Regions from separate parts of the Homo sapiens genome. Here region 2 is linked to region 1. The links come from fine-mapping of genetic effects on plasma protein levels. A gene starts in region 1. The other region holds a variant in brackets. All regions are shown on one strand. Distances are between the middles of the regions.

Region 1 (15,651 bases):
ATTCCCTCTAACAAACAGTGACAATGTAGACCATATCAAAATGTTTTTCTTTATATTTTGACATACATTATACCAAAATAAATATTTAAAAATTTTTTTAGAGACAGGATCATGCTTTGTCATCTAAGCTGGAGTGCAGTGGCATAACCATGGCTCACTGCAGCCTTGACCTGGATTCAAGTGATCCTCCCACCTCAGCCTCCCAAGTAGCTGGAACCACAGGGGCACGCCACCACACCCAGCTAATTTTTTTTGTATTATTTGTAGAGACAGAGTCTTGCTTCGTTGCCCAGGCTGATCTGGAACTCCTGGGATCAAGTGATCCACTGGCCTCAGCTGCCCTGAAGTGCTGGAATTACAGGCATGAGCCACTGAGCCTGGCCTCCTATGATAGTTTTGTTTTGTTTTTAATTATACTTTAAGTTCTAGGGTACATGTGCACAACGTGCAGGTTACATATGTATACATGTGCCACTTTGGTGTGCTGCACCCATTAACTCGTCATTTATGTTAGGTATATCTCCTAATGCTATCCCTCCCCCCTCCCCACCCCACAACAGGCCCCAGTGTGTGATGTTCCCCACCCTGTGTCCAAGTGTTCTCATTGTTCGATTCCCACCAGTAGTTTTGAAAAAGAAACTCTTGTCATCTTTTTACCTCTCACAGTTTTTCCCTATAAGTAAAGAATGAATTATTTCATTCTTTTTTTTTGAGATGGCATCTCGCTCTGTCGCCCAGGCTGGAGTGCAGTGGTGTGATCTCGGCTCACTGCAACCTTCGCCTCCCGGGTTCAAGCAATTCTCCTGCCTCAGCCTCCGGAGTAGCTGGGACTACAGGTGCCCGCCACCACGCCCAGCTACTTTTTATATTTTTAATAGAGACGGGGTTTCACCATGTTGGCCAGGATAGTCTCAATCTCTTGACCTCGTGATCCGCCCGCCTCGGCCTCCCAAAGTGCTGGGATTACAGGGGTGAGCCACCGCGCCTGGCCTGTTTCATTCTTGAAATAATTGTTTGATGCCCTTTGGGTCCATATTTCCTTCCTGCAAAGGATTAAGGCCATAGAGGCATTTCTGGGGTGGAACTTGTCTCCCTCCGGCTCTGCATACGACGCTGTAGGCAGTCCCTGATCCTGGACACAGCCGACCAATTATCCCTGAGGAGGTGAGTAGGCCTGGACTAGGGAGCAACAGTTTGGCCTCACTCTAGGCCATATTTCATGGTTTGATTTTACCATCAATAAAGCTGATAATTTTATTTTATTTATTATCTTTTTTTTAGACAGGGTCTCACTTTGTCACCCGGGCTGGAGTGCAGCAGTGTAATTGCTGCTTACTGTAGCCTCAACCTCCGGAGCTCAACTGATCCTCCCACCTCAGCCTCCAAAGTAGCTAGGACTATAGGCACATGCCACCATAGCTCGGTAATTTTTTTTTTTTTTTGAGATGGAGTTTCACTCTTATTGTCCAGGCTGGGACAATCTCAGCTCACCACAACCTCCACCTCCCAGGTTCAAGTGATTCTCCTGCCTCAGCCTCCCGAGTTGCTGGGATTACAGGCATGCGACACCACGCCCGGGTAATTTTGTATTTTTAATAGAGACAGGGTTTCTCCATGTTGGTTAGGCTGGTGTCGAACTCCTGACCCCAGGTGATCCACCCGCGTCGGCCTCCCAAAGTGCTGGGATTACAGGCATGAGCCACCGTGCTGCGCTTGGGTGATTTATTTTTAAGTATTTTGTAGAGTTGAGGTCCCATCTTGTTTCCCAGGCTGGTTTCAAGCTCCCGTGCTTAGGTGATTACCCCTCCTCAGCCTCCCAAAGCACTGGGATTACAGATGTGAGCCACTATGCCAGGCATAATTTTATTCTTATCTGAATCCTGTGTATATTTATTTTTCAGTTAATCCAGAACTGTATAGGGAGAGGGATATATTTACTGTTGAACTTAGTGATTAATTGGATGCAGGGGTGAAGATGATAAGCAAAGAAAAACTGCTGGCCAGGCACGGTGGCTCACGCCTGTAATCCCAGCACTTTGGGAGGCCGATGCGGGAGGATTGCCTGAGCTCAGGAGTTCACGACCAGCCTGGACAACAAGGTGAAACCCCGTCTCTACTAAAATACAAAAAAATTAGCCGGGCCTGGCAGCGTGTGCCTGTAGTCCCAGTTACTTGGGAGGCCGAGGCAGGAGAACTGCTTGAACCTGGGAGGCAGAGGTTGCAGTGAGCCGAGATCGCGCCACTGCACTCCAGCCTGGGCGACAGAGTGAGACTCCGTCTCAAAAAAGAAAAAAAAGAAAAGAAAGAAAAAAGAGAAAAAAACTGCTAAGAATGATTCTTGAGTTTTAGGCTTTAATATTGATGGGAGCAGGAGGAAGTGAGACAGTTCTGAGGACCCCTGTTTGATACTTTAATTTTGAGGTGTCTATTTTTTTTTTTGAGACGGAGTCTCGCTCTGTCACCCAGGCTGGAGTGCAGTGGCGCGATCTCGGCTCACTGCAAGCTCCACCTTCTGGGTTTACACCATTCTCCTGCCTCAGCCTCCCGAGTAGCTGGGACTACAGGCGCCTGCCACTGCACCCAGCTAATTTTTTGTATTTTTAGTAGGGACAGGGTTTCACCGTGGTCTCGATCTCCTGACCTCGTGATCCGCCCGCCTCGGCCTCCCAAAGCGCTGGGATTACAGGCTTGAGCCACCGCGCCCGGACTTTTTTTGCATTTTTAGTAGAGATGCGGTTTCTCCGCATGTTGGTCAGGCTGGTCTCAAACTCCAGACCCTCAGGTAATCCACCCACCTCGGCCTCCCAAAGTGTTGGGATTACAGGTGTGAGCCATTGGGCCCAGCCTGAGGTGTCTATTTAAGATACCAAGTAGATAGTTAAAGAATGCAGTAGGAAAAACCAGGCTGCAGTTGATAATTTTAGTGCTGAAGATATAAACCATCAGACTAGGAATTTGATTAATAGCAAGGGAAGTCTTGTTGCCCATTGCAGAGTTGTACCTTCTATGTCCTTTCCTTCCATGACGCAGGTCAGGCTTGGATGATACTGTTGATACTCTCGTAACTTGGACAGCCTCTTGACAGTTTTGCTATACATAAAATTGTGAGGCACTGGGAAAGAGAAATCGGAGTTAGTTCTCATTCTTTTAAGTGGATCTATGTTGTACTATACAATCTTATGCTGTGGACAGGCACAGTGACTCACGCCTGTAATCTCAGCACTTTAGGAGGCCGAGGTGGGAGGACCATTTGAGGTCGGGAGTTAGAGACCAGCCTGGCTAACATGGTGAAACCCCGTCTCCACCAAAAATATAAAAATTATCCAGGTGGCCAGGCACAGTGGCTCACACCTGTAATCCCAGCGCTTTGGGAGGCCGAGGCTGGTTGGATCACTTGAGGTCAGGAGTTTGACCAACATGGTGAAACCCCGTCTCTACTAAAAATACAAAAATTAGCTGGGTGTGGTGGCGGGCACCTATAATCCGAGCTACTTGGGAGGCTGAGGCAAGAGAATTGCTAGAACCCAGGAAGCAGAGGTTGCAGTGAGCCGAGACCGCGCCATTGCACTCCAGCCTGGACGACAGAGCAAGACTGTGTCTCAAAAAAACAATTAGCCAAGGGTGGTGGCAGGCGCCTGTAATTCCAGTTACTCAAGAGGCTGAGGCAGGAAAATCACTTGAACTTGGAAGACAGAGGTTGCAGTGAGCCGAGATCGTGCCATTGCACTCCAGCCTGGGTGACAAGAGTGCAACTCCATCTCAAAAAAATAAATAAATAAATAAATAAAAATAAAGAATCTTATGACTTTACGGCTGGGCATGGTGGCTCACACCTGTAATCCCAGTACTTTGGGAGGCCAAGGCGGGTGGATCACCTGAGGTCAGGAGTTCAAGCCCAGCCCAGCCAACATGGTGAAACCCTGTTTCTACTAAAAATACAAAAATTAGGTGGGCATGGTGGCACATGCCTGTAATCCCAGCTACAGGAGGCTGAGGCAGGAGAATCACTTGAACCTGGGAGGTGGAGGTTGCAGTGAGCAGAGACCGTGCCATTGCACTCTAGCCTGGGCAATAGAGCCAGACTTTGTCTCGAAAAAAAAAAAAAAAAGCCTGGGCACAGTGGCTCATGCTTGTAATCCCCAGCACTTTGGGAGGCCGAGGTGGGTGGATCATGAGGTCAGGAGTTTGAGACCAGCCTGACCGACATGGTGAAACCCCATCTCTACTAAAAATACAAAAATTAGCCAGGCGTGGTGACACGTGTCTATTAATCCCAGCTACTCAGGAGGCTGAGGCAGGAGAATCACTTCGACCTGGGAGGCGAAGGTTGCAGTGAGCCGAGATCGCACCACTGCACTCCAGCCTGGCAACAGAACGAGACTCCATCTCAAAAATAAATAAATAAATAAATAAATAAATAAATAAATAAATAAATAAACGTTATGCTCTTACAAAGTCTGCAACATCTCTCTCTTGCCCATCCCATTTCAAGCCGTACTGTTTTTTTCTCATGCTTCTTTCTGTGCAGGTCCAGTAAAAAATATGTTCTTAACCCTATCTTATATTCATTTATCTTGTTTGTTTATAAGTTTACATACGTATATATCTTGATTTCCCCCTACAATAACATACAGTCTAGTGAAGGAATTTCATTGTATTCACGCTATATACCCAGCACCTAGAAAAGTGGCCTGCTCATAGTAGGTGTTCAGTAAGCATTTGTTGACTTACTAGGTAACAGCATCTAATTCTATTAATCCTGAAATATCACAGGTCTTTTGGTTTTTCCATAGTTTTCTGATGGCTGTAACTGTAAGTAAACCATTTGGGTCAAATTAAATATAAGGTAAAACCTAACCCTTTGGAGACATTTAGACATCTTTTGCTAAAAACGGTCTCTTTTGTTCACTGGCAGGCACATAGAGCAAGATCTGACTTTTCACTTATCCTCACTTAATTCTTTTTTTTTTTTTTTCTTTTTTTGAGATGGAGTCTTGCTCTGTCGCCCAGGCTGGAGTGCAGTGGCGCGATCTTGGCTCACTGCAAGCTCCGCCTCCTGGGTTCATGCCATTCTCCTGCCTCAGCCTCCTGAGTAGCTGGCACTACAGGCGCCCGCCACCGCGCCCGGCTAATTTTTTTTGTATTTTTTTTTTAGTAGAGACAGGGTTTCACCATGGTCTCGATCTCCTGACCTCGTGATCCGTCCGCCTCGGCCTCCCAAAGTGAGCCACCACGCCCGGCCTTAATTCTTTATTCATGTATTTCATCATTCTGATTTTGAGACTAAACCTAGTCAAACTCTTCTATTTTCTCTGAATTTATGTCTTTAAGTTCTTGCATGTCTTCTTTCCTCTCAGATAATTAAATAACCATCTTGTATTAGTCCGTTTTTGCATTGCTATAAAGGAATACCTGAGACTTGGTATTTATAAAGAAAAGACATTTTACTGGCTCACAGTTCTGCAGACTGTACAGTAAGTATGGTGCCAGCATCTGCTCACCTTCTGGTGAGGCCTCAGGAAGCTTTCAGTCATAGTGGAAGGCAAAGCGGGAGCTGGCATATCACATGGCAAGAGAGGGTGCAAGAGAGAGTGAGGGGGAGGGGCTGATCTCACCCCAACTCAGAGCAAGAACTCACTTATTCCTTCGAGGAGGGTGCCAAGCCATTCATGAGGGATCCATCTGCATCACTCAAAACCTCCTGCCATGCCCCACCTCCAACAGTGGGGATTTCAAATTTCAAGTGATAGTTGTCCCTTCCAAATTTCAAATTTTCAACATGAGACTTGGAAGGGACAACTATCCCAACCATATCACATCTTTAAGCCCTTTTGTCTCTTGCCCTTTGTTATAAAAAGCAAAGCAAAGTTTAACTTTAGTAATAATTCTGCCTCTTGGGGTTACATTGAAAACTGTGAGATGTATTTACAACTAGAAAGAAACTGAAGACTGTATCATCAACACATTTTTACTTGACATAGGAAGTCATCGTATTCAGTAACTTCCTCACAGATGTTTCATTTCTGTTTCTAATCATAATATTAGATAATAGAGCACATTTTGACACCCAAATAGTAAACAAGAGAGTTGGGAAATTTCTCAGGTGTCACAAAAATATAAAACTTGGCAAAGGGAGTAGCAATTAAATAATAGTTTACTTTGTTTATTTTTCCATTGTATCACTGTATAAACATTTATTTTTATTTTTATTTTTTGAGACAGGGTCTCTCTGTCGCCCAGGCTGGATTGCAGTGGTACGATTATGGCTCACTGCAGCCTCAACTTCCTGGGCTCAAGCGATCCTCCTGCCTCAACCTCCTGAGTAGCTGGGACCACAGGCACATGCCACCATGCCAAGTTATATTTTTTATTTTTTATGGAGACAGGGTCTCATTCTGTTGCCCAGGCTGGTCTTGAACTCCTGTCCTCAAGCGATCCTCCCACCTGAGCCTCCCAAAGTGCTCACAGGTGTGAGCCACTGCCTGGCCATATGAACAATTTTTCCTGTCATGTTGGGAAGAATCTCACATGAAGATTAAAACCCCACAGTAATACAATTATAGCATCATAGAAAGAATAATAGTTATGTTCCCAATAGAGACTTTTTTAAAACAAAGGAGCAGATCAACTAGATGGTACCCACCATCAGCACACCCATCAAAGTGGAGTTATTGTTATAGAATGAATTGCGTCCTCCCCAAGTTCATATATGGAAGTCCCAAGCTCCAATTTGTGGTATTTGAAGATAGGGGCTTTGGGAGGAAATCAGGTTTAGATGAGGTTATGAGGGGGGGCTCTCATGGTGAGATGAATGCTCTTATAAGAAGAAACCGTGACGAGCTAGCACTCCCTCCATCATGTGAGGACACAGCAAGAGGGCATCAGCTGTAAGCCAGGAAGAGGGACCTCACCATACCCAACCATCCTGACATCCTCATGTCAGACTTCCAGCCTCCAGAACCATCAGAAAATAAATATCTGTTTTTTAACTCACTCAGTCTATGCTTTTTTTTTTTTTTTTTTTTTTTTTTGAGACAGAGTCTCACTCTGTCACCCAGGCTGGAGTGCAGTGGCGTGATCTCGGCTCACTGCAACCTCTGCCTCCTGGGTTCAACTGAGTCTCCTGCCTCAGCCTCCCAAGTAGCTGGGATTACAGGCGCGAGTCACTGCACCCAGCTAATTTTTGTATTTTTAGTAGAGACAGGGTTTCACTATATGGTCCAAGCTGGTCTTGAACTCCTGACCTCAGGTGATCTGCCTGCCTTGGCCTCCCGAAGTGCTGGGATTACAGGCATGAGCTACCACGCCTGGCCCAGTCTATGGTATTTTGTTATGGCAGCCCAAGCTGACCAAGACAGTTATGATCACATTTGAAAAATGCAACTAAAACCAGGCAAAGAAACCTGGAAGTACACACAATTATCCAGAATAATTAATAATAGTAATAACTCATTTTATTAGAAACATAGCCTTCTCAGTTAGGGTTGCCATTTTATGTCAAGAAAGGGGAACGTGGCCGGGCGCGGTGGCTCACACCTGTAATCCCAGCACTTTGGGAGGCCAAGGTGGGCGGATCACGAGGTCAGGAGATCGAAACCACCCTGGCTAACACAGTGAAAACCCGTCTCTACTAAAAATACAAAAAATTAGCCAGGCATGGTGGCGGGCACCTGTAGTCCCAGCTACTCGGGAGGCTGAGGCAGGCGAATGGCATGAACCCGGGAGGTGAGCTTGCAGTGAGCCGAGATCACGCCACTGCACTCCATCCTGGGCGACAGAGCGAGATTCCGTCTCAAAAAAAAAAAAAAAAAAAAGAAAAAAAAAGAAAGAGGAACGTGTTTCTTCAGGAAATTGATAAAATGTGATTGGGAAAAGGACCAAGAGATGACTGCACTCCAGCCAAGAACTTACCCACAGAACTCACAGTGAAACAGACACTGAGGAGCAAGATGGATACGACTGCCATGGACCAGACCTTCAACTGGAACCACCAGAGTCCTTTCTCTGTCAGATCAGCATGACAAATGCACAGTCATAATCCCCACTGCCAAAGAGCCAGGAAACCAGAGTCCCAAAAATCTTAGAATAATAAAGTCAGGCTATGATCAAAACTAATTAAAACAGAAAAAATGTGAAAGCAAAAAGAGATTATAGAAATTATCTCAGAACAAATGACCAGATAGTACCCTGGAACCCAAGACAAATCCAGGCAAAACTCTCAGAGTAAACTGTACTTTCCAATTCCTTACTCTCTTTTCCCTTGAATTGCACAGCCTTGGCCTCAAACTTCCAGGCTTAAGTGGTCCTCCTGCCTCAACCTCTGAGTAGCTGGGACTTTAGGCATTTGCCTGCATGCCTGGCCAAATTCATATTCCTTTAAGGCCTTCTAGGCCCGAGTTGTTTTTCTTTTTTTCTTTTTTTTGAGATGGAGTTTCACTCCTGTTGCCCAGGCTGGAGTGCAATGGCACGATCTCGGCTCACTGCAACCTCCGCCTCCCAGGTTCAAGTGATTCTCCTGCCTCAGCCTCCCAAGTAGCTGGGATTACAGGCATGTGCCACCACGCCTGGCTAATTTTCTATTTTTAGTAGAGACAGGGTTTCTCCATGTTGGTCAGGCTGGTCTCGAACTCCTGACCTCAGGTGCTCTGCCCACCTCGGCCTCCCAAAGTGCTGGATTACAGGCGTGAGCCACCGCGCCCGCCCGGCCTTTCTTTTTTTCTTTCATCTTTCCCTGATCCAAGTATCTTGGGTCCATACCTGTTTCCATACTGAAATTACTATTATTTATGAAAAGCTGTCTACTTCTTCTTCCAAAGTCATCCCTATCACCTCAATGCCTGTTTCCCACTCCATCCTGCTCCTACTACCTTCCCTAGAACTGAGAAGATGAGTGCTTACCTCGGTCTTGAGGCTCTTCTTCAGGCACCATTGTGTGTGCGCACACCCTTTGGACTTCCTCTATCAGGTGGGTGCAGAAGCTCTTGTATCACTTTCTCCAAAGATGTTACTTTCGGGGTGTGGTTCTTTCAAACAAGCCAAGCCCTTAGATCCTTCTTCGCCTACTCTTGCAAAGGAAGAGATGTGACTTAGGAGACTCTGCAGTGAGCTAAAGCTTTCAATTTAAAACATACATCATGTTCAGAAATAAGGAAACACAAACAAGGAAATCGAGAAATACATGAAAAACAGTTCATGGTTGCAGGTCTGATTGTCTTTTTTTTTTTTTTTTTTTTTTTTTTCTAGACAGGGTCTCACTCTGCCACCCAGGCTGGAGTATAGTGGTGCAATCTCAGCTCACTACTACCTCTGCCTCGCGGGTTCAAGCGATTCTCCTGCCTCAGCCTCCCGAGCAGCTGGGACTACAGGCATGTGCCACCATGCCCAGCTAATTTTTGTATTTTTAGTAGTGACAGGGTTTCATCATACTGGCCAGGCTTGTCTCGAACTCCTGACCTCCTGCCGTTGCACTCCAGCCTGGGCAACAAGAGCAAAACTCCATCTCCAAAAAAAAAAAAAAAAAAGCCTCTTTCATTTGTAAATTGCCCAGTCTCAGGTATGTCTTTATCAGCAGTATGAAAACGGACTAATACAGCCTCCCAAAGTCCTGGGGTTACCGTTGTGAGCCACCACGTGCCCGGCCACTGCTGAGTAATCTTAAATAGAGAAAATCCATTATAGCCTATGCTACTCAAATGGAGATGTTTGGTTGAAGGATGGTTACAACTACTGGTGAAATAGACACTGAGAAAGAAAGAACCTAGGTATTCCAGAATCTTCCCAGAGTTCAACTGAGATTTAATTGTAGAGTAGTGAGAAAAAAGTTTTGAGCTGGGCACGGTGGCTCATGCCTATAATCCCAGCACTTTGGGAAGCTGAGGTGGGCGGATCACGAGGTCAAGAGATCGAGACCATCCTGGCCAACATGGTGAAACCCCGTTTCTACTAAAAATACAAAAATTAGCCAGGTGTGGTGGTGCATGCCTGTAGTCCCAGCTACTCAGGAGGCTGAGGCAGGAAAATTGCTTGAACCCGGGAGGCGGAGCTTACAGTGAGCCGAGATCGTGCCACTGCACTCCACCCTGGGTGACAGAGCAAGACTCAGTCTCAAAAAAAAAAAAGTTTTGAGTTAGCAGCCATCCTTTGAGATATTTTAGGACCCAGACCAATGAGATCCTTTCTAAGCTGTATACTTGCTGAAACAACTTAAAGTCCTGTTTGGTCTCTTGTCTACCTCCCATTTACAGTTCCCTGAACCTCCCTCTGCCCCTGCCTCAGGGGTTCTCCCTGTTGCTTTCCTCTGTCTTGGATTAAAATGTAGAGTATGAGGGTATTCCTTTGAGTATACAATGCTGAGAAGAAAGGAGCAAAGGCAAAAATGAGAAAAATAATTTAAAATAGAACAAATTATAAAAGCAGAAAGAATGACAAATTATTTTCTCAGAAGAAAAGCAGAATTGCATGTAGGCCCAGCTCAGGTGACATCCCAGCAGAATGCTTTGAGTATGACCAGAGTATTGCAAAAGCTACAGCTGAAGAGGATAAATCTAGATAAGAATTGGTAGATGGTTTGCTCACTACTTCTTCCCCCGGTTGGTGAGGGAGGGAGTCCCAACCCAGGGTTATGGGTGGCTGGACACACAACACCCGACACTGGACAGATAAGACTGACAGCAGTTCAGCTGCATGTACTCACGGCCTGAGGCAGGAGGGCACCGCACACCATGCAGGGTCAGACAGAGGTTGCACTTGGGAGCAGGGTGACTGTGGGAGGCAGGATCTGCTGTAACAAGAGGGTGAGGTGGCCCCTTGGCTCTTGAGGGAGGATGGGATTGGCTTCTTTAAAGAATTTTGTGGCCAGGTGTAGTGGCTCGTGCCTATAATCTCAGCACTTTGGGAGGCTGAGGTGGGCGGATTGCTTCAGGCCAGGAGTTCAAGACTAGCCTGGCCAACATAGTGAAACCCCATCTCTACTAAAAATCCAAAAAATTAGCCAAGCATGGTGGCACACGTCTGTAATTTCGGCTACTCAGGAGGCTGAGGCACGAGAATCACTGGAATTTGGGAGGCAGGGATTGCAGTGAGCCGTAATCGTACCACTTCACTCCAGCCTGGGTGACAGAGTGAGATTCTGTGTCAACGAAAAAAAAAAGAGAAAAAAAAGATTTTGTGGGCCTTCAGGGAAGTGAAATCTATTAGCTTGAGGACCAGGTGGAGTGCAGCTGGCCCAGCTGAGATGGAAACTGGCTGAGTGAGAAACAGAAATATTTTTTTTTTTTGAGATGGAGTCTTTCTCTGGTCACCTAGGCTGGAGTGAGTGCAGTGGCTAAATCTTGGCTCACTGCAACCTCCACCTCCCGGGTTTAAGCAATTCTCCTGCCTCAGCATCCCGAGTAGCTGGGACTACAGGCATGCGCCACCACGACTGTCTAATTTTGTATTTTTAGTAGAGACAGGGTTTCTCCATGTTGGTCAGACTGGTCTTGAACTCCCAACCTCAGGTGATCCGCCCACCTCAGCCACCCAAAGTGCTGGGATTACAGGTGTGAGCCACAATGCCTGGCCATTTTTTGTTTTTGAGACAGGATATCAGTCTGTTGCCCAGACTGAAGTGCAGTGTCTCGACCTTCACTCACTGTAGCCTTGACCTCCTGGGATCAAGTGATCCTCCCACCTCAGCCTCCCGAGTAACTGGGACTATAGATACACGTCATTACACCTGGGGATCTTTTAAATTTTTTTTGTAGAGACAGGGTCTCGCTATGTTATTTCCCAGGCTGATCTCGAACACCTGGGCTCAGGTGATCCTCTTGCCTTGGTCTCCCAAAGTGCTAGGATTACAGATGTAAACCAGCATGCCTGGCCGGTGATGCTCTTTTAACATGAGTACCCAGTGTTTGGAATCAGGACAGGGCATCAGTTAGGTTTTGCTGTATAATCAATTAACTTAAAACTTAAAATACACAGCTATTCAATTAGTTCATAGTTCCCGAGAGTCAGCAATTTGGGCTGAACACCACTGGGTGATTCTGGTTTGGATTGGATCGGATCGGTTCCATCTCAGCTGAGCTCACTCTGCAATAAGCTGGTGGGCTGGGTGGGGCTGGCTGATTCACGTCTCTCTTTGGTCATCCTCTAGCGGATTAGCCTGGATTTACGTACATTGTGGCAGGAGGATTCCAGTAGTAGCAAGAAAACAAACCCTATTGTGTACATGCTTTTAAAAACCTGTGTGCCAGGAAATCACCAAATCACTCCAGCTATAACATTAAAAGACAACCACTCTCTTCCACTTAAAACTTATTGGCTGGCCACAATGCCTCACACCTGTAATCCCAGCACTTTGTGGGGCAAAGGCAGGAGGATTACTTGAGGCCTGGGCAACATAGTGAGACCTTCTCTCTACCAAAAAAAAAAAAACAAACAAACAAACAAACAAAAATTAGCCAGGTATGGTAGCATGTACCTGTAGTCCCAACTACTTGAGGGGCTGAGGTGGGAGAATCACCTGAGCCTTAGAGATCAGGGCTGCAGTGAGCTATAATCAAGCCACGGTGCTCCAGCCTGAGTGACAAAGACCCTACCTCTAAGATAAAATAAAAACCAAGAAGAAAAAGAAACCTCCCCAATATGTCAGTATTTACGCCTTCAGAAAAAGATTTCTATGTGAATAATGTTATATATTTGCAACATATTATCAAGCAAAGAAACCAGTAAGAGGCCAGGCACAGTGGCTCACACCTGTAATCCCAGCACTTTGGAAGTGTGTGGCAGGTGGATCACCTGAAGTCAGGAGCTTAAGACCAGGCTGCCCAACATGATGAAACCCCATCTCTGCTAAAAATACAAAAATTAGCTTAGTGTGGTGGCACTAGCCTGTAATCCTAGCTACTCAGGAGGCTGAAGCAGGAGAATCACTTGAACCCAAAGGCAGAGATTGCAATGAGCCGAGATCGTGTGTCCAGAATTGATAGGTTCTTGGTCTCACTGACTTCAAGAATGAAACCACGTACCCTCGCGGTGTTACAGCTTTTAAGATGGCACGTCTAGAGTTACTCGTTTCTCTCGGCGAGCTTGTGGTCTTGCTAGCTTCAGGAGTGAAGCTACAGACTTCCGCGGTATCACAGCTCATAAAAGAACCGTGGACCCAAACAGCGAAAGAACAAAGCTTGCACAGCACAGAAAGCAACTCGCAACCGGTTGCAACTGCTAGCTCGGGCAGCCTGCTTTTATTCTCTTATCTGGCCCCACCCACGTCCTGCTGATTGGTAGAGCCGAGTGGTCTGTTTTGACAGTGCGCTGATTGGTGCGTTTACAAACCTTGAGCTAGACATAAAGGTTCTCCACGTCCCCGTCAGATCAGTTAGATACAGAGTATCCACATAAAGGTTCTCCAAGGCCCCACCAGAGCAGCTAGATACAGAGTGTCGATTGGTGCATTCACAAACTGAGCTAGACACAGGGTGTTGATTGGTGTGTTTACAAACCTTGAGCTAGATACAGAGTGCCTATTGGTGTATTTACAATCCCTGAGCTAGACATAAAGGTTCTCCACGGCCCCACCAGACTCAGGAGCCCAGCTGGCTTCACCCAGTGGATCACTGCACTGGGGCTGCAGGTGGAGCTGCCTGCCAGTCCGCGCCCTTGCGCCCGCACTCCTCAGCCCTTGGGTGGTCGATGGGACTGGGCGCCTTGGAGCAGGGGGTGGCGCTCATCGGGGAGGCTCGGCCGCACAGGAGCCCATGGCGGGGGAGAGGTGGGAGGCTCAGGCTTGGCGGGCTGCAGGTCCCGAGCCCTGCCCCGCGAGAAGGCAGCTAAGGCCCGGTGAGAAATCAAGTGCAGCGCCGGTGGGCTGGCACTGCTGGGGGACCCAGTACACCCTCTGCAGCCGCTGGCCCGGGTGCTAAGCCCCTCATTGCCCGGGGCCGGCAGGGCCGGCCGGCTGCTCCGAGTGCGGGGCCCGCCAAGCCCACGCCCACCCGGAACTCCAGCTGGCCCGCAAGCGCCGCGCGCAGCCCCGCCTCTCCCTCCACACCTCCCTGCAAGCTGAGGGAGCCGGCTCCGGCCTTGGCCAACCCAGAAAGGGGCTCCCACAGTGCAGCGGTGGGCTGAAGGGCTCCTGAAGTGCCGCCAAAGTGGGAGCCTAGGCAGAGGAGGCGCTGAGAGCGAGCGAGGGCTGTGAGGACTGCCAGCACGCTGTCACCTCTCAATTGCGCCACTGCACTCCTGGGTGACAGAGGGAGACTCTGTCTCAAAAGAAAGAAAGAAACCAATGAGAAAAGCAGTCCTTAGGGTTTAAGATTCTATTTTATAGCTAGCCAGGTGGAGATATTGGGCTTGTGTAAGAGGAAGTTAGTGGTCAGACCACGCAGGGTGAAGTGAGAGTTTAACTTATCCAATAGCAGAAAGAGCCATTAAAGGCACTAAAGCAATGTGGTGAAAGGATCAGATTATATTTTTTTATTTATTTATTTTTTGAGACAGAGTCGACAGAGGAAGACTCCGTCTCAAAAAAATAATAATAAAAAAAAAGTCCAACTTTGAATGTATTGTTTGCAGAGGATGAAGTGGCAAAAGAGACAAAGAAGAATATCCAGAGAAATAGGAAAAGTGAGTGTCTTAGTCCATTCAGGCTATTATTATTTTTTTTCTGAGATGGAGTCTCGTTCTGTCACCCAGGCTGCAGTGCAGTGGCACGATCTTGGCTCACTGCAACCTCCACCTACCGGCTTCAAGTGATTCTTCCGCCTCAGCCTCCCCAGTATCTGGGACTACAGGCGCATGCCTCCACGCCCAGCTAATTTTTGTATCTCTAGTAGAGATGAGGTTTCACCATGTTGGCCAGGCTTGGTCTCGAACTCCTGACCTCAGGTGATCCACCCACTTTGGCCTCCCACAGTGCTGGGATTACAGGCATGAGCCACCAGGCCCGGCCCATTCAGGCTATTATAAGAAAATACTGTAAACTGGGTGGCCAATAGCAGCTGCAATTTATTTCTCACAGTTTTGGAGGCTGGAAAGTTCAAGATCAAGGCACTGGCAGATTTGGTGTCTGGCAAAGGCCCACTTTCTGGTTTATATATGGCTCCTTCTTGCTGTGTCCTCACATGGTGGAAGGGATGAGCCAGCTTTCTGGGGTCTTTTATTATAAGGGCACTAATTTCACTCATTTGGTTGAACCCTCATGACCTAATCACCTTCCAAAGTCCCCACCTCCAATACTATCACCTTGGAGGTTAGGATTTCAACATATGAATTTTGGGGAGACACAAACATTCAGACCATAACACCAAGTGTCAAGAAAGCCAAGGGGGCCGGGCGCGGTGGCTCAGCCTGTAATCCCAGCACTCTGGGAGGCCGAGGCGGGCGGATCATGAGGTCAGGAGATGGAGACCATCGTGGCTAACACAGTGAAACCCCGTCTCTACTAAAAATACAAAAAATCAGCCGGGCGTGGTGGCAGGCGCCTGTGGTCCCAGCTACTCAGGAGGCTGAGGCAGGAGAATGGAGTGAACCCGGAAGATTGCAGGCATGAGCCACCGTGCCTGGTAGTTCTTTATCACTTTTAGCATCTATTTCATTTTAAAAATCTGATTGATTTTTAAAATGCTACTACTAAATTTTGGCTTTCCCTAAAAAGAAGCACCAGGGCTC
Region 2 (14,449 bases), 26 kb before region 1:
AGACAGGCTTTCCAGCTAAATGTTAATAAACAGACTAACAGCTTCACTGGGAAAATGGAAGGGAGAGGCCGTAAACGTGCTCCGTAATGTAAATTAGTAGCAGGACCTCCACCGGAGGGCGGCTTATCTAGAAACTGCTTGGGTAATTCTGCTCCCTGATAGGCCGGGTCTTCCGGTGGAGAACTCCTTTCTTACAGCAGCACCCAAGCGCGGGCTTGGCCACAGAGGCCCTCCACGTGGTTTGAAGTCTTATTTATGACCCTGACAGCGGGGCTGGGTGTCTAGGGTGGTGGCGGCAGAAACCCTGGAGCCAACACCTTCGACTGCCCGATGCTGGGAGGTCTGGGAACTGGGCCGCTGGCGCGCTGACGCCCTCTGCGCCTGGTCTTAGCTGTGTCCCCTGCGTCCAGAAGAAAGAATGCTGGTCTATATATCCGAGTGGGAAAGAAAAATGAACGTACCCCCAGTCTCTCCCTTTCCTTGCGTCTGCCTTAGTACCTCACAGTTCCACAAAGGATCCTCGTTTCTATGTGCACAGGTCCCTAGACTTTGAGAATCGATCTCGAACTTTGATATTGTTTAATACTTTCACATATAGGGGGCAAAAAACAAAACAAAACACACATACACGGGCAGTTAACGATAACCTTCTTATTGTATGAGATATGCGTATGTATGGGATACGCCTCACAGTTCGGATGGGAGAGACGAGAATGAGTGGTTGATTTCCCAAAATAGAGTTTGAGTGAAGAGATCTAATACCATGAAGGAGCTGGGCAACTAAATTAGGGCTAACTGGAGAGGGTAACAGCCACTTACTTCGACTGCCCAGTTTTGCTTAAGGATGAGGATTCTGGGAGAAAATAGTATATGGGTTTTTCTTGTCTCTTTCACAAGATTCCACAGAATGTACGGTAGGTAATGCTTGTGAGATACTCAGTGGATCTCTTAAGTGTAAGTGAACAAAGCTAGCTCAGGGCAGCGTGTGGGACACGCTTGTAGCGCCAGCTACTCTGGACGCTGAGGTGGGAGGATCCCTTGAGCCTGGGAGGTAGAGGCTGCAATGAGCCATGATAGTGCCACTGCACTCCAGCCTGGGTGACAGAGCAAGACCCTGTCTCAAAAAATAACAGTCTACCATCCTGGCTAACACGGTGAAACCCCTTCTCTACTAAAAAATAGAAAAAAATTAGCCGGGCATGGTGGTGGGCGCCTGTAGTCCCAGCTGCTCGGGAGGCTGAGGCAGGAGAATGGCGTGAACCCGGGAGGCGGAGCTTGCAGTGAGCCGAGATGGCGCCACTGCACTCCAGCCTGGGAGGCAGAGCGAGACTCCGTCTTAATAATAATAATAATAACAGTCTAGAAAACAAGGGATTACAGTCATCCCTCGGTTATACTCTGGGAATTGTTCCAGGACATCCCCAAAATCTGTAAGTGATCAAGTGCCACAGTGGGCCCTGCGAAACCTTGTGAAAAAGGTTAACAGTGTGTGTGGGGATTTCGAATTTTGTGATTGGTTGGAAAAAATTCTCGCGTAAGTGGGACCCAAAGTTTAAACCCGTGTTGTTCAAGGGTCAACTGTGTTATCATGTGCCCCTGTACAAGTGACTTCTTCCTGCCTTGACTTTCCTTTTTTTTTGAGACGGAGTTTTGCTCTTGTTGCCCAGGCTGGAGTGCAGTGGCGCAACCTGAGGTCACTGCAAACCTCCGCTTCCCGGATTCAAGCGATTCTCCTGCCTCAGCTTCCCGAGTAGCTGGGATTACAGGCATGCACCACCACCACGCCTGGCTAATTTTGTAGTTTTATTTCTATTTTTATTTTTATTTATTTATTTTTTTGAGACGGAGTCTTGCTCTGTCCCCCAGACTAGAGTGCAGTGGCGCGATCTCGGCTCACTGCAAGCTCCACCTCCTGGGTTCACACCATTCTCCTGCCTCAGCCTCCCAAGTACCTGGGACTACAGGCGCCCGCCACAACGCCCGGCTAATTTTTTGTATTTTTTAGTAGAGAGGGGGTTTCACCGTATTAGCCAGGATGGTCTCGATCTCCTGACCTTATGATCTGCCCGCCTCGGCCTCCCAAAGTGCTGGGATTACAGGCGTGAGCCACCGCGCTGGGCTAACTTTGCGATTTTTGAGAAAAGACTAGAGGTTGTGCGTTGTTTACTGTGACCTTCCACCCTGAGGAATTTCCCACACAGCGCCCTGTTCCCCTGCTTAAGGGCAGACCTAGTTGATGTGTGAATGTTGAAGATCCCCTTAATGTAATGGCTTTTAACCTTCTCTTTCAGGGGCCTCTCAAATCTCCTCCGAGACGTTGATAAAGAACCTTAGTAACTTGACTATCAACGCTAGTAGCGAATCTGTTTCCCCTCTATCGGAAGCTTTACTCCGTCGAGAGTCTGTAGGAGCAGCAGTCCTCAGGGAAATCGAAGATGAGTGGCTTTACAGCAGGAGAGGAGTAAGAACATTGCTGTCTGTGCAGAGAGAAAAGATGGCAAGATTGAGATACATGTTACTCGGCGGAGTTCGTACGGTATGTTGATGTGATGTGGCCGGGGCTGTCCAATTCCGGAGAGTGACACTCATAAATTAAGACCTAATTAAGACTCCCTAGCTCTAGGCCCGGTGCGGTGGCTGAGGCCTGTAATCTGAGCACTTCGGGAGGCTGAGGCAGGTGGATCACCTGAGGACAGGAGTTCGAAACCAGCCTGGCCAACATGGTGAAACCCTGTCTCTACTAAAAATACAAAAAGTTAGCTGGGCCTGGTGGTGGGCACCTGCAATCTCAGCTACTTGGGAGGCTGAGGCTAGAGAATTGCTTGAACCCTGGAGGCGGAGGTTGCAGTGTGCCGAGATTGTGCCATTGCCCTCCAGCCTGGGCAACAAGAACAAAACAAGCGTCTCAAAAAAAGACTCCCAGCTCACGTCTGTAATCCCTGCACTTTGGAAGGCTGAGGTGGGAGGATCACCTGAGCTCAAGGAGTTCCAGACCAGCCTAGGCAATATAAAAAATTAATAAAATCAGCCATCTCTACAAAAAATTAATTAGCTGGGTGTAGTGGTGCGTGCCTGTAAGTCCCAGCTGCTGTGGGGTGGGTGGCTGAGGGCTGAGGCAGCTGGATCACTTGAGCCTGGGGGGTTAAGGCTGCAGTGAGCCATGATTGCTCCACTGCAATCCAGCCTGGGCAACAGAGAAAGACCCTGTCTCAACAAATTCCCTAGCTTCTCTCCCTTATATAGATGTGTAATATTAGTAATCTTTTTCTTGATAGTTTTCAATAAACATATTTTTTTCCCATGAAGCATGAAAGAAGACCAACAAACAAGGAGCCTAAGGGAGTTAAGGTAAGTATAATTTTTTTCTTTTTATTTTCCTTTTTTTTTTTTGGCTATATATGTGGATGGGTATCTGGTTTGTTTCCTTTTGCCGGAATAGGGAATTAGGGAATTTGCTTGGACTTTCTGAATCCCCAGGGACTCTGGATAAGTCAGTTCATGTTTGTAGTTTTTAAAAATATATTCTTTATTCTTTATTTTTCAGAGAAGTTTTATGTTCATAGCCTTTCCCCCACACCCCACACATGCCGCCTCTACTGTCAACGTCACACACCAGAATTGCACACTTTGCAGCTGATGAACTTACCCTGACAGGATTATCATCCAGAGTTCATAGTTTACACTAGGGGTCACTCTTGGTGTTAGGTTGATACTTTCACGTGCTGTCACAAATATCTTCACGGTAGCACTGTATAGTAAGAGGACAAACACTTCAGCAGAGTGTCTAGTAGCAGAATGAGTTACATTTAAGGCATTCAGAGAACGGAGACTAGAATGTTTTATTGACAGTCTGCACTTGTTACCATTACAAAATGACCCACAAGCTGCCATTCTGTGGTACCCATATTTTGATCTTTTTTTCTCCTAAAATGTTTTGCTTTTGGCCCGTGTGTCCTTTTTTGTGTGTGTTCCCTGTTCCAACACTTACCAAAATAAACAACATTATAGTTGAGGGCTTATTACATTTCTCTGGGGTACAATATTCCAATTAATCCATTTCATCATTTTTTTTCAGAAGGAATCAAGACCATTCAAATGTCCCTGCAGTTTCTGCGTGTCTAATGGATGGGATCCTTCTGAGAATGCTAGAATAGGGAATCAAGACACCAAGCCACTTCAGCCATAAATCTTATTCTTGCACCTTTTTTTCTTGGTAGTAATTTTATATAGCAGGTTGAGAAAGCTACTCTATGCTAGTATAGACTATACACCAATAATTTTGATAATGAGTTCTAGGATGTATTTTTCTTGTATCTTTTTCTTCCTACTATGATACTAGTAATTCATAAGGGATCTGTGTAATCTGAATGTATTTGAATAACTTTAGCTCTACTGTTTGATTTGACCCAAAGAAGCCAAGA[T/C]GATATAAGTATTCCCATGTGTCTTAGAAGCCCAAAGTCAGTGAGATGAAACCCAACATCAAGAAATTGAAGCAAAGTTACTTATGGATAAAGAAAGCATTAGGTAGTTGGGCTATAGCATAATTAGATTTTCTGGCTTTCAAAAATTTGGATTGCAATCACAGCAAACTTTGTTATTTTTACAGTTTTCAGTACAAAAGTGTTTATATAGAAACAATAAAGTTGACATTTGAGTACCTTTTAAAAATTGTTCTTGATTTTATTCTTTTTCTTACTAACAATTAGATGAACAATAGTTTTATTACATTTCTAGAATGTAAATATCTGGCATTCTAATATTTTATATCTTCCCACTGGGAAGAAACTTCATTGTACATTTGGGTGAGATTGGAAAACACAGGCACAGATAGTTGCAAATATCAACTTCCCATTAGAGATGTGAAAATTGGAAGGAGGTAGAACAGAAGTGGAGCTTACTACGTTGTTGATAGGAAATATGCAGGGGTCCTCACACCAGGCAAGCAATTCTTTTTTGTTTGTTTGGTTTTCTGAGACAGTTTCGCTCTTGTAGCCCAGGCTGGAGTGTGATGGCACTATCTCAGCTCACTGCAACCTCCGCCTCCTGAGTTCAAGCGATTCTCTTGCCTCAGCCTCCTGAGTAGCTGGGATTACAAGCACCTGCCACCACGCCTGGCTAATTTGTGTATTTTTAGTAGAGACAGGGTTTCACCATACTGGCCAGGCTGGTCTGGAACTCCTGACTTCAGATGATCTGCCTGCCTTGGCTTCCCAAAGTGCTGGGATTACAGGTGTAAGCCACGGCACCTGGCCTCCAAGCAAGCAATTCTGCCATAGATATCAGCTGGGTGTCTAATTCAATTCCAGCACTGTCTACCTGGAAATAGCTCCAGATCTTACAGGTTGAAGGCTCAGTCCCACAAGACTGCCTGCACTTCTAATGCTAATCACAAGCTTCAGGTTGTCTTACCTGTGCTTTTGACTGACCAGCTACAAATCAGGGTTCCCTCGACCCCTTGCTTGAGTTTGATTAATTTGCTCTAGTGGCTCATAGAACTCAGGGAAACACCTTACTTATTGTGAAGGATATTACAAAGGATACAGATGAATAACCAGATGGAAGAGATGCATAGGGCGAGGTATAGGAGAAAAGACAAGCAGGGTGAACCACCCTTAAGGAGTGTGAAACTGTCCAGGAGCCCTCAGAACTCCTTTTGTGTTTTTAGGGAAGCTTCATTAGGTAGGCATGATTGATTACATCACTGGCCATTGGTTTATCAACTCAACCTTCAGCCCCTGTCCCTTCCCCTGGAGGTCCCGGAATGGGAGTGAAACTTTCAACCCTCCAATCACTTGGTGGTTTCTCCTGGCAACCTGCCCACATCCTGAGGGTATCTTGGAGCCCCCAGCAAAGCAGTCACCATTAGCATACAAAAGTTATCACTCCAGAGATTTTGAAGATTTTAGGAGCTATATGACAGGAAATGGTGACTAAGAACAAATATGTTTTATAATATCACAGGGAGAATTGGAAAGGATATCTGCATGATATGTAATAACCCAAGAAGATGCTATCCAGTGATTTCTTTGTGGTTTTTGTTTTGTTTTTTGAGATGGGGTCTCACTTTGTTGCCCAGGCTGGAGTGCAGGACCACACTGCCAAGTTTGGTCATCAGAAGTTACCCCACTGAAGAACTAAATTTAACATGGTCTACCAGCAAGGACAAATGTGGGGCAGATTGAGCATTGGTTATATTTCTTTTTTTTTTTTTTTTTTTTTTTTTTTGAGATGGAGTTTCACTCTTGTTGCCCAGGCCGGAGGGCAGTGGCGCAATATCAGCTCACTGCAACCTCTGCCTCCCATATTCAAGCAATTCTCCTGCCTCAGCTTCCTGAGTAGCTGGGATTACAGGCATGTGCCACCACACCCAGATAATTTTGTATTTTTTAGTACAGATAGGGTCTAACCATGTTGGTGGTATCGAACTCCTGACCTCAGATGATCTACCCACTTCAGCCTCCCAAAGTGCTGGGATTACAGGCATGAGCCACTGTGCCCGGCAGAGCATTTGTTATAACTTACAAATCGTTCCTAGTAGCAAAGCTAACTTTTATTATTTTTCTGTATGAGCTTGAAAATCACTGACTAGTTAAAAAAGGCAACTTATTTTTATTGCAATCATGTTAAATTTGTAAATTAATGAAAACATTAATTCTACATGTCACATGTCCTTTCGTATTCTTTTGAGATGCAGTCTCGCTCTGTCACCAATGCTGAAGTGCAGTGGTGCCATCTCTGCTCACTGCAACCTCCACCTCCCAGGTTCAAGCGATCCTCCTGCCTCAGACTCCCAAGTAGCTGGGACTACAGGCGTGTGCCACCACGCCCAGCTAATTTTTGTATTTTTAGTAGAGACAGGGTTTCACCATGTTAGCCAGACTGGTCTCGAACTCCTGACCTCAGGCAATCTGCCTGCCTTGGCCTCCCAAAGTACTGGGATTATAGGCATGAGACACCGCGCCTGGCTAGTATTTAGGTATATTTTTAAACCTTTCTATAATAATATCTTCCTTTCATGTATTTCCTGCTGAGAGCATCAGTTCAAGTTGCCCTGAATCTTTATGCTCCCAGTTTACATTTATTGAGTGCTAGGCATTATTCTAAGGATTTTACGTGCATTAGCTTATTTAAACCTCAAAACTTCTGAGATAGGTCACTTTCGGTGTCTTCATTTTACAGAAAAAAAAAAGCACAAAAGTAGTGAACTTGCTCAAAGTTACATAAGAAGTGGCTTATCCGAGATGGAAGTCAGCTAAGCCAAGTCGGTACTTTCTTCTTTTTTTTTTTTTGAGATGGAGTTTTGCTCTTGTAGCCCAGGCTGTAATGCAATGGTGCAATCTCGGCTCACTGCAACCTCCGCCTCTTGGGTTCAAGCAATTCTCCTGACCTCTCCCCGTGTCGGCTTCCCAAAGTGCTGGGATTACAGGCGTAAGCCACTGCGCCTGGCCCAAGTCGTACTTTCTACAGATATCTTCCTCTTCAGATTATATTATGGTGTGTTAAAATATTGCCATTACATTTTTCAACTGGTTGTAATATATGAAAGTTGTTTTTTTTCTATATTTACTTATTTGAGCCAGGGTCTCTCTCAGTTGCCCAGGCTGGGAGTGTAGTGAGGCTTGGCTCACTGCAAACTCCACCTCCCGGGCTGAAGCAATCCTCCCACCTCAGCCTTCTGAGTAGCTAGAACTACAGGCATGAGCCACAATGCCCGGCTAATTTTTTGTATTGTTTGAGGAGACAGAGTTTCACCGTGTTGCCCAGGCTAACGCTGTTAATTTCTCTATTTGCTGTTCACTCAACATTTTTTGTTTTACTTTAAACTTTTTTTAAAAAAATTTCAAACTACATAAAGTTGCAAGCTTAAGCTCATAAACCTGTGTGTACATTTTACCTAGATACAACAATTGTTAGCATTAGCCACATTTCATTTAACATTCTATATTTTCTCTTTTTAAACAGATATTTGAGAGTAAATTTCAGATAACACTTCATCCCAAAATAGTTTGTGTTTTCTTAGAACAAGAATATTGACTTATATAACCACAGTAGAAGGATAAAATTCAAGAAATTTATGGCCAGATGTGGTGACTCATGCCTATAATCTCAGCACTTTTGGTGGCTGAGCCCAGAGATTTGCTTGAGGCCAAGAGTTCGAGACTAGCCTGGCAACATAGTGAGATCCTAGTCTCTACAAACAAAAAATAAATTAGTCAGGTGTAGTGTTGGGGGCCGGGGGGAAGATGTGGAAGGGATAGGAAGCGGGAAAGGGGTAGGAAGGGATAGGAAGGGAGGAAATGGGCTAGAGGACCCCAGGGGTTCAAAAGGCAACTTATTTATTTATTTATTTATTTATTTTGAGGCAGAGTTTCGCTCTTGTAGCCCAGGCTGTAGTGCAATGGTGCAATCTCGGCTCGCTGCAACCTCCGCCTCCTGGGTTCAAGCAATTCTCCTGCCTCAGCCTCCCGAGTAGCTGGGATTACAGGTGCCTGCCACCTCGCCTAGCTAATTTTTGTATTTTTAGTAGAGACGGGGTTTCACCACATTGGCCAGGCGGATCTGGAACTCCTGACCTCAGGCAATGCGCCCACCTCAGCCTCCCAAAGTGCTGGGATTACAGGTGTAATCCCAGCACAGGCACCACGCCCGGCCCAGAGTTTATTTTTGTATTTCTGCTGGCCCACGCAGTCCAGCCCAAAGGGCCTATGGCCCAAGGCCCCACAATCAGGCCCCAGCGGTCACCAGCTCTGGTCTTGGACCAGCCCTTGGTGCCCACCTGTACCCCCACCTCACCCATTTGGTCACATGCACTGGTTGTCACTTTACTACAGCTCATTCCTTCCCAATAAAAGTTTCTGTGACTTAAAAAATATACATATATTTTTCTATATGATGTTAGATAGGGGTCCTACTTAATTCTTTTGCATATGGTTATCTAGCTGTCCAAGCAACATGTGTTGAAAAGACCATTCTTAAAAAAATAAATAAATAAATAAAAAATAAAAATAAAAAAAGACCATTCTTTCCCTATTGAGTTGTTAACAATCAATTGACTATTAATGTGAATGTTTATTTTTGAATTTGCTTATTACATTGATCTATACATTTGTTTATTTATTTATTTATTGAGATGAAGTCTTGCTCTGTTGCCCAGGCTGGAGTGCAGTGGTGCGATCTTGGCTCATTGCAACCTCCGTCTCCTGGGTTCAAGCGATATCCTGCCTCAACCTCCCGAGTAGCTGGGACTACAGGTGTGTGCCATCACGCCGGGCTAATTTTTGTATTTTTAGTAGAGACTGGGTTTCACCATGTTGGCCAGGCTGGTCTTGATCTCCTGATCTCAGGCCATCCGCTCACCTTGGCATCCCAAAGTGCTGGGATTACAGGCGTGATCCACCTCACCTGGCCTGATCTATATGTTTGTTTTTATGCCAATATCACACTGTCTTGGTTACTCTTGCTCTGTGGTACATTTTGAAATCAGGAAGTGTGAGTCTTCCAACTTTATTCTTCTTTTTCAAGTTGTTGAGACTTTATTAATTTAAAATATTATTAGGCCGGGCAAGGTGACATAAACCTGTAGACCCAGCTACTCCTGAGCTGAGGAGGGAGGATCATTTGAGGCCAGGAGTTCGAGGCTGTAGTGCCCTATGATCACACTGTGAACAGCTGCTGCACTGCAGCCTGGGCAACATAGTGAGGCCCCTTCTCTAAAAATAAATTAAAAATAGGCTGGGCACAGTGTCTTACGTCTGCTCTCCCAGCACTTTGGGAGGCTGAGGCAAGAGGATCACTTGAGCCCAGGAGTTTAATGCCAGCCTGGGCAACATAGCTAGACCTCATCTTTACAAATAATAAAAAAAATTAGCTGGGTGTGGTGGTGTGCACCTGTGGTCCCAGGTACTTGAGAGGCTGAGATCACGGCCCTGCTTGGGCAATAGAGTGAGACCTTGTCTCAAAAAATAAAAAATTGTTATAAGGATACTTTGGTTTGATATATCACTTATCAAATTTGTGCTGTGCCATAATGAGATTTCTCATATGCTTGTGGGCTTTTCTCTATTCTTTTGAATTCCTTATAAGATTGAGGCCAGGCACAGTGGCTCATGCCTGTAATTCCAGCACTTTGGGAGGCTGAGGCGGGTGGATTACCTGAGGTCAGGAGTTCAAGACCAGCCTGGCCAATGTTGTGAAACCTCATCTCTACTAAAAATACAAAAATTAGCCGGGCATGGTGGCGGACGCCTGTAATCCCAGCTACTCAGGAGGCTGAGGCAGGAGAATCGCTCGAACCTGGGAGGCGGAGATTGCAGTGAGCTGAGATCACACCACTGCACTCCAGCCTGGGCGACAGAGCAAGACTCCATCTCAGGAAAAAAAAAAAAAGAGAGATTGAAAATTAAGTTTATCTTAAGATCCATTATTTTTCAAAACAGTGAGAGTCTTGGCCAGGCACAGTGGCTCACGCCTGTTATCCCAACACTTTGAGAGGCGGAGGCAAGGCAGGTGGATCACCTGAGGTCAGGAGTTCGAGACCACCCTGGCCAACATGGTGAAACCCCGTCTGTACTAATAATACAAAAATTAGCTGGGCGTGGTGGTGCGTGCCTGTAATCCCAGCTACTCGGGAGTGGGACGCAGGAGAATCACTTGAACCCAGGAGACGAGGTTGCAGTGAGCCGAGATCACGCCATTACACTCCAGCCTGGGCAACAAGAGTAAAACTCCATCTCAAAAAAAAAAAAAAAAAAAAAAAGGTGAAAATCTAGTAATAAATATCAGGAAGAAATGGTGTGTGTAACTTGCTAAATGAGAGGTGGTAGATGAGATCTTTCCTATTTCCTGGTTACCAGGACCCATAGTCACATTTTAGTTTCAGAGTAACTCCAGCTCAGTTTCCTTCCTGCAGCGTTTGCTAAGGGACACCGTTTTGTAAGATCAGACACAAGAACGTTTTTCACTATCAAAAGTAGGCTAGCGATAGGATAAGAGAGTACATTTGGGAGAATGCCGACCTTATGTTACTGATTCCTATCTGCTTTATCTTTTTTTGGGAAAGGGCAGGGCATTTTATATGTACCCCCTCCTCCTTGCAGGATCAGATGTGACCAAAGTATCTTTGCCCACAAATAAAACTGGAGCTGGTGATTACATCTAATCTAATTGCTGAGCCATTGAACCAGCAGAGAGCCTGATAGCCAGGCCTGATGCTGCCGGTTGGTGAGAAAGGAGCGCAGGGTGATGCTAGGCAGAGTGTCTGCAAACAGCTGGCATTCCCACCATTTGGTGACGCAAGTACAGTTCAGAAAGTGGGTGGAACACAAACCATCTTGTAAGTAACCACCCATGACCTTCCCCCAACAAGGGACTGCTGGATGAGAATTCCCCAAAAGCAAAAGGTTGTGGGGATGGAGTAAAAGTTTAAGCCTCAGTTCCATTTTTATGACAAAGGACTGGGCAGAGACCAACACCCATAGAGCTCTCTAAAATCCAATCAATGCAACCCCATGAAACAGCCAAGTTTTAGGCCATTGCCACAGAGAGGAAACTGATGGCTGGTCAGTGTTGAGAATCCAAAACCACCCCTGACTATCACTGGAATGGGAGAGCTTTGAATCAAGTATAATTCAAACATTTAAAGTGAACATTTACACGTCAAGTATATATTTTATTACAAATTACTTTTTCATTATAGAGTATTATATTTCTAAATTCTAAACTTAATAACTGAAAGGTTTTTTTAATTTTTTTCTTTTTATTCATCATATCCAACCCCAATAAACTGGTTTTTTAAACATTTTTTATTTTTTTGAGGCAAGGTCTTGCTCTATAGCACAGGCTGGAGTGCAGTGACATGGTCATATCTCACTACACCCTCAACCTCCCAGGCTCAACTGATCCTCCCACGTCAGCCTCCTGACTAGGTGGAACAAAAGGCACACACCACCACACAGAGCTAATTTTTAATTTTTTTTGTAGAGATGGGGGTCTTGCTATGCTGCCCAGGCTGGTATCAAACTCCTAGGCTCAAGCGATCCTCCTGCCTTGGCCTCCCAAAGTCCTGGGATTACAGACATGAGCCACCATGCCTGGTCAAAAGTGTTTCAGTAACTGAAAATGACCCAAATATCGTGGAACTGGACTAATATTTCATTAATGAAGACCTGCTACGCTGGAAAAAAAGGGTTTCACAGACCCCAACGGTAGCAGGTATTGAAATCAACAAAACAATTTCACATTTATATCTTAGTTGAGTTTCCTCAATCAAACAAGCTTTATGTATATAACTTTAGGTTTCATGCTTCAATATTACATTATAACTTAGGTATCTTGAAATAAATGAAATAGAATTCAATGAAATTCTGATTAATCTTTCTACTCTTGTATACTTTCTGTCAAAAGTTACTGTAAGGGCTGGGCGTAGGATTACAGACTCATGCCTGTAATCCTAGCACTTTGGAAGGCTGAGGAGGTCGGATCACTTGAGGCCAGGAGTTTGAGACCAACCTGGCTAACGTGGTGAAACACCGTCTCTACTAAAAATATAAAAATTAGTTGGGCATGGTGACATGTGCCTGTAGTCCCAGCTACTCGGGAGGCTAAGGCACAAGAATTTCTTGAACCCGGGAGGCAGAGGTTGCAGTGAGCTAAGATGGTGCCACTGTATTCCAGCCTGTGTGACAGAGCCAGACTCTGTCTCAAACCAACAAACAAAAAGTTACTGTAATATGCTGAATGGCCCTCAGATATGCCCACACTCTAATCTCCAGAGCCTGCAAATGTTACCTTATATGGCAAAAAGGACTTTGTAAATGTGATTATTTTAAAGATCTTGAGTCTGGGAGATTGTCAGGATTGTCCAAGGGGGCCCGGTGTAATCACAATGATCCTTATGAGAGGGACACAGGAGAAGTCAGAGTTAGAGAAGACAGTGTGATCACAGAAGCAGAGATTTTGGAGAGGCGCTCTCTGAAGGCAGATGAAGTGGCCACAAGCCAAGGAATATAGGTGGCCACTAGAAGCTGGAAAAGTCAAGGAAGCAGATTTTTCTCTCACAGCCTGCAGAAGGAACTAGCCCTGCTGCCTCCCTGACTTCAGAGAACTGGGTCTCAGTTTGGACTTCTGACCTCCAGAACTATAAAAAAAATTAACTTGTGGCCAGGCACAGTGGCCCACACTGTAATCCCAGCACTTTGCGGGGCCGAGGCAGGTAGATGGCTTGTACCCAGGAGTTCGAGACCAGCTTGGGCAACATGGCGAAACCCCATCTCTGCCAAAAATACAAAATAGCTGGGCACGTTGGTGCATGCCAGTCCTAGCTACTTGGGAGGCTGAGGTTGCAGAGCTGAGATCATGCCACTACACTCCAACCCGGGTGAGAGTGAGTCCGTCTCAAAGAAAAAAATAATTTGTGTTGTTCTAAGCCATTTTGCGTTGATTTGTTACAGCAGGAACAGGAAACTAATGTGGCTATCAAATGTAATTTTCCCATCTGCTCAGGAGGTGTCCACCTCATAGTGCTGAGCTTGTGTATGAAATGATATTGCACAACAGCAAATGTAGATCAGGGGTTCTCAATCCCAGAAACTTAAACATGAGGATATCTGGGGTGAGGCATTTTTTAAAAAGCTCCCTAGGATTCTGATTATAATCTGCAAGCAAGGCTTAAAACTACTCATAGGGATGGGCAAATGAGAGGAATTGGTTAAGTTGATTTGTAAGAGTTAAACTGATAAATTCTACCTACAGTGGTTAAGGTGAGGTCAGATCTTTCTGGCTTTTTGTTTTTTTCTTTTGAGATGAAGTTTCGCTCTGTTGCCTGGGCTGGAGTGCAATGGCGTGATCTCGGCTCACTGTAACCTCTGCCTCCCAGGTTCAAGCGATTCTCCTGCTTCAGCCTCCTGAGTAGCTGGGATTATAGGCACCCGCCACCATGCCTGGCAAATTTTTTTGTATTTTTAGTAGAGAGGAGGTTTCACTGTGTTGGCCAGGCTGGTCTCAAACTCCTGACCTCAAGTGGTCCACCTGCCTCGGGCTTCCAAAGTGCTGGGAATACAAGTGTGAGCCACTGCACCCGGCCAAGTTCAGCTCTTTCAAAATAGCCCATCCTAAAGGAGAGTGAAGAAATCAGTGGCCGAAGAAATGAAATGATTCTGTTGCATCAAGATGATCAGGGCACAATCTCAGAAAGTTGGAAGTCATATTGGGAAAATCTACAAAAGTAGTCATGGATGGAACCAGCTTTATTGTAATTCTGATCACTATACCAGAGCAATGCATTACTCTGATGTAAATATGATGTATTTTTACTATACTAGAAATAAAGTGACCTGTGGGAACTTCAGTAAAAAGAATAAGAACAAATCGGGGAACATTTGAGGTGGCAATCCATACACAGAAACTTTGAACCAAAGAAAAACTTATTGGGGGCCAGGCGCGGTGGCTCACG

Alleles and levels. Alleles are on the strand shown, and positions count from the first base shown. The strength of an association depends on the size of the effect and on how common the allele is.
As copies of C replace T in region 2, the plasma level of the protein whose gene starts at base 8,956 in region 1 goes up (moderate association).

What was found. PIP is the chance, under the fine-mapping model, that this variant and not a neighbour inherited with it causes the effect. The UK Biobank Pharma Proteomics Project read protein levels with antibody pairs (Olink). The fine-mapping took linkage between variants from a reference panel, not from the people measured, so its PIPs are less certain.
Region 2: its variant is fine-mapped to the plasma level of the CLEC4C protein (UK Biobank, PIP above 0.99).

What each region holds. Positions count from the first base shown.
Region 1 is chr12:7,738,420-7,754,070 of GRCh38, forward strand. CLEC4C (C-type lectin domain family 4 member C) reads right to left here and starts at 8,956. Exons shown (of 6, transcript NM_001371390.1): 1 at 8,899-8,956; 2 at 7,912-8,004; 3 at 3,002-3,112. The coding sequence starts at 8,929. RefSeq lists enhancers at 10,732-10,811, 10,832-11,011, 11,192-11,271.
Region 2 is chr12:7,712,892-7,727,340 of GRCh38, forward strand. DPPA3 (developmental pluripotency associated 3) reads left to right here. Exons shown (of 4, transcript NM_199286.4): 2 at 2,292-2,536; 3 at 3,307-3,348; 4 at 4,076-4,668. The coding sequence ends at 4,186. Among named protein-coding and RNA genes, the nearest start is that of DPPA3, 8.7 kb to the left of the region's middle. The variant T/C (reference allele first, on the strand shown) is at 4,422.